Regions from separate parts of the Homo sapiens genome. Here region 2 is linked to region 1. Evidence: fine-mapped expression QTL. Tissue or cell type: whole blood. Region 1 holds a variant in brackets; the other region holds the start of a gene. All regions are shown on one strand. Distances are between the middles of the regions.

Region 1 (2,500 bases):
TTTGAGACAGTCTTGCTCTGTTGCCCAGGCTGGAGTGCAGTGGTGCGATCTTGGCTCACTGCAACCCTGGCCTCTTGGGTTCAAGCAATTCTCATGGCTCAGCCTCCCAAGTAGCTGGGATTACAAGTGTGCACCACCAAGCCCAGCTAAGTTTTGTATTTTTAGTAGAGATGGGGCTTTGCCATGTTGGCCAGGCTGGTCTCAAACTCCTGGCCTCAAGTGATCTGCCTGCCTCAGCCTCCCAAAGTGCTGGGATCACAGGCATGAGCCACCACTCCTGGCCCGAGAGGACTTCTTTTATCTTTAAAATCTAATCGTTTCACTAGGATCTGACACCTCTGAGTCAACTTTCCCAAGCACACAGAGTGGCCTTACAGTATTTATATTCAGGGTGGTTTGTTTTGTGGGGGAAGAAAATTTTATTATCAGTTTAAACATTAATTCTATTCCAGTGTTTTTTCTTCAACATAAAACGTAATGTAGTTGATAAAACCTAAATATAAGACCTGAAAAACTCCTAGAAGAAAACTCCGGGAAAAAGCATCACGACACTGAATTTGGCAATGATTTCTTGGATATGACACCAAAAACAGACAATGAAAGCAAAAGCAGGCAAATGAGACCATATCAAACTTAACTTCTGCCCATTAAAGGAAACAAGAGTGAAAAGGTAACCTACAGAATGGGAGAAAATATTTGCAAACCATGTATCTAATAAGAGGTTAATATCCAGAGTATATAAAGAACTCCTATACTCAACAAAAAATGAAATAACCCAATTAAAAAAGGGGCTAATGACATGAATAGAGACTTCTCTAAAGAAGGCATGCAAATGGCCAATAAGCAAACAGAGAGATGCTCCACATCACTAATCATCACGGAAATGCAAATCAAAACCACAATGAAATATCACCTTACCCCAGTTAGAATGGTTATTATCAAAAAGATGAAAGATAGTAAATGAGGAAACTATCAAAAAAAAAAAAACAGCATAATGAGTTGGTGAAGATGTGGAGGAACTGGAACTCTCATGCACTGATGGTGGGAATGAAAATGGTGCAGCTGCTATGGAAAACAGTACGAGTGTTCCACAAAAAATTAAAAATAGAACTACCATATGATCCAGCAGTCCCACTTCTGGGTATATATCCAAAGGGATTGAAATGAGGATCCTGAAGAGATATCTGCACTCCCATGTTAATTGCAGCATTGCCTGCAATAGCCAAGAAATGGAAGCAGCCTAAATGTCCATCGAAGGTAAAGAAAGAAAATGTGGTATATCCATA[T/C]GATGGAATGTTATTCAGCCTTAAAAGGGAAGGAAATTCTGACACATGCCACAACATGGAGGAAGCCTGAGGACATTATGCTAAGTGAAATAGGCCAGTTACAAAACAACAAATACTGTATGGCTTCTCTTATGTGAGTTATCTAAAGAAAAACTCTTACAAAGTAGAATGGTGGTTGCAAAGAGCAGGGGATGGACAGAGGCAGGGGGAAGGGAGTTGATGGGTATTGAGTGTGGTTTTACAAGATGAAAAAGTTCTGGAGATCTTTTGACCAACAATGTGCACAGAGTTAACACCCCTGTTCTGGACGCTTAAAAACGGTTAAGATGGGCCCGGCGCAGTGGCTCATGCCTGCAATCCCAGCACTTTGGGAGGCTGAGGCGGGTGGATCATGAGGTCAGGAGATCAAGACCATCCTGGCTAACACAGTGGAAACCCCATCTCTACTAAAAATACAAAAAATTAGCTGGGCTTGGTGGCACAGACCTGTAGTCCCAGCTACTCGGGAGGCTGAGGCAGGAGAATTGCTTGAACCCGGGAGGCGGAGGTTGCAGTGAGCTGAGATTGCACCGCTGCACTCCAGCCTGGGCGACACAGTGAGGCTCTGTCTCGGGAAAAAAAAAAAAATGGTTAAGATGGTAAAGTTTGTCATGTTGTTTTGACCATCACCACCACAAAACTCAATATAGTTAAATTTTCTTCTTCAACTACAGTTTAATTTCCTTTGCCTCTTTTCCTTATCTATTACTTTCTTATTTCATTTCTTTTCAATGGAGTATCTTCCCCCTGTGCATCTTCTATTTAGGTTTGCGATAACCTTTCCTTTTTCCTTTGTTTACGGTCAGCTGTGGTCTTCCACTCTCTCCATCACCACTGCCCCTTCCCTTCCGGTCTGCAGTTTCTAAGCCCTTGAGAGCTGGAGATCCAGGTGATGACCCTTGGTAGACTGTATGAGCAAACAGGTTCTAAGGTGGCCTCATCAGAGGGGTGGGCTAGAGGCTCCATAAGATTTAAAGGTACAAATTCAGTGACAATATTAGCTCAGGGGCCTTCTGGGATCAATAATTGGTTGTCTTTGAGTTAAAATTCTCACCGAGCAATCTCTGTGAAGGTGAGGGGTTATCTGTCCACTTAAGACACAGCTGGGAAGGTACAGGGAATGGGAGGTTATGGCAAAACTGAACAGGCTACAGGATAAACCTCCTCCAGTCTTA
Region 2 (2,639 bases), 25 kb after region 1:
CCTTATTGCAGGACTGAATTTGCTTTTGGCTTCTTAATCAAAAACCTGATCAGAGGCGATTATAAAACTCCCATCTCATCTTTACTTGAAAATACGAAAGTAGAGTCAATTTAAGTTATTAAGTCAAGGTCCCATCCAAACTGTCAGCAAATCGTGTTGGCTCTATCTTCAAAGTATTTCCAGAATCCAACTGCTTCTAATGACATTCCCTGCTATCTGCCTCATCTAAGCCACCATCATCCCTTACCTGGGTTATTCCAACAGCCTCCTAACTCGTCCCTGTTTCCACCCTATGATCCAAGACAATTCATTCTCCATACAGCAGTAATAGTGATCCTTTTAAAACACAAGTCAGGTCCTTCTTCAGCTCAACACCCTGCCATGGCTCCCCATTTCACTCAGTAAAAGCCTATAAGGTGTGTGATCTGCCTCTCCACTACCTCTCTGACATCCTCTTTCAGGTACTACTCTCCCCCTCACACAGGCAGCCTTGCAGTTAGGATTAGGGCACACTCCTGCCTCGGGGCCTTTTTACTGGCTGCTCCCTCTGCCTGGACCGTTTTTCCTTCAGATATTCACATGGCTTGCTACCTGAATCACCTCCTTCAAGTCCTTGCTCAAACATCACCTTCACGAGTCCTACCCTGACCATCTTACTGAAAAAATGTAACTCCCTCCTCTCCTATCACGGCGTAGAATCTACTATTTCTATGTTTACTGTCTGCCTTTTCATACTAGAATATCTTTCCATAGTATTAACAGCTCCATAAGCACAGGAAGTTTTGTGTTCACACATGTACTCCAAATGCCTAAAAAGTGCCTGACACAGAGTAAGTGCTCAATACGTATTTGTTAATAAATGGGCTTCTTAACAAACAAGCATATATGCCCAAAGGTATGCTCCAAGATACAAGGAGCAGCATTTTATTCGCTGCTACACCCACAGCGCCTAGCATCTGGTCGACTAAAAGACAATCGGAGCTACTGAAGTGACTGTTACCTCTCCGAGAGCAGAGTGAGCGGAGACGAGACCGCACCCCTCCCCTCAAACCCAGCCCAGCCCAGCCTACTCCGCCCTTCACCTGTGAGGAGACACCCAGGTGCTGGAAGCTGTAGTCCAGCAGCAACTCCTGAAGCTCCAGGTTGACCGGCACGTTGCGGTCGAAGGGCGAGCGCAGCATCCAGCGCAGTGGCTCCAGGCTGCCCAGAGCGTTCCCCACCTGCGGGCCCGACGCGCCCCGTGCCCCGCCACGACCGCGGGCGCACACCGCGCGGAACTGCAGGCGCGGCTCGGGACCTGGGTCCTGCCCGGGACACGCCCAGCCAGCGCGGACTTGGAACGACCCGTTGTCCAGCACCAGCGGTACCGGCAGTGGCCCGTGTGCCACCGGGCCGGCCTCCAGCACTGGGTCCGGTGCGGCACGGGCGTCGCGGAACGGGAACACGTTCGCCGCCATCTTGGAGCGCGCGTCCAGCCCCGCCCCTCGGCGCAGTGTCCGCCCAGACGCCGCGAAACCGCGCCCCCGACGTCACGCCGCGCGATTCAGGCCTTTAAGTACCTCGATGCCCCCTCCCTTCTCGAAGCCCGGCCAGCCTTTCCACTTGACTCGCCTCTGGCTGTCAAGGCTGCTTTCAGGATCGCTGAGACGTACCCATTCTGGCTGCGAAATTCTACGTTTCTTAACCTCTCCCCCAATAGCCTATGAGTGCCCACGCCCCTTCACTCTAGCCGGGACGCCCGGTTTGGAAGCCCCGCCCCAAAGCCTATCGCCGCCAGGCCCCGCCCCTTTCTGGCTGCCAGCTTCAGCGCCGCGCTCGGTGGAGCCCCGCCTCTCTGCCTGGCCACGCCCCATTGCCGGGCGCGCACCGTCGGCCGGGCGCGCACCGTCGGCCGGGCGCGCACCTTCGACCGCCGGCGGCCCCGCCTCCGCGTGGCTGTCTCGCCCTCAGTCTTGCGTCCTGGCTAGAAGGGTCCTTTATCTTTTGACGCTTCCTTTACGTTAAGAAATCTCAAACTCTGCCGACTGTTCAATTTCTTGACTAGGGAGCTGACTACTCAGTTCTGTTCACTTTACTAACTCGCACAGACTGTGTCTTCTCACTAAGACACAGTGTTTTCTCAAACCCTGAGAAAAGACTGCTGATTGTTCCCCAAGCATTCCCTCTCTTTTAGTGGCATCACCTCCCACTCCCACGTGGCCATCCGTCTGGCTGCGATCTAGATGCGCTCATGTGACTAAATTCTGGCCAGGAGCGGGTGGGAGAGGAGGCCATGTGTGTGACCCACTCAGTTTTAGCCCTAAAAGCACTCGTCGCGCTCTATCCTGTCGCATTTCCATCTTTTCACTAGCTAAGGGGGTAAGAATTAGAGCAGTTGTTTTACTACAACCTTTTTTTGTGCAGTGGGGCGATCTCGGCTCACTGCAGCCTCGACTTCCTGGACTCAAGTGATTCTCCCGCCTCAGCCTCCTAAGTAGCTGAGATTACAGGCGTGCACCACCACGCCCAGCTAATTTTTATATTTTTAGTAGAGAAGGGATTTCACTATGTTGCCCATGCTGGCCATAACCATTTTGAAAGAAGAAAAAGAATAGAGCAGCTGCCTTGAATCTACTCTACCAGGTCTATAACACTTCAGT

The links. PIP is the estimated chance that this variant, and not a neighbour inherited with it, causes the effect.
Region 2: it holds the start of ACTR5, and the variant in region 1 is fine-mapped to the expression of ACTR5 in whole blood (INTERVAL, PIP above 0.99).

Annotation. Positions count from the first base shown.
Region 1 is chr20:38,772,757-38,775,256 of GRCh38, reverse strand. No RefSeq gene overlaps it. Among named protein-coding and RNA genes, the nearest start is that of ACTR5, 26 kb to the right of the region's middle. The variant T/C (reference allele first, on the strand shown) is at 1,287.
Region 2 is chr20:38,747,297-38,749,935 of GRCh38, reverse strand. It overlaps ACTR5 (actin related protein 5), which reads right to left and starts at 1,476. Exons shown (of 9, transcript NM_024855.4): 1 at 1,083-1,476. The coding sequence starts at 1,457. RefSeq lists silencers at 1,241-1,430, 1,731-2,000 and an enhancer at 1,379-1,880.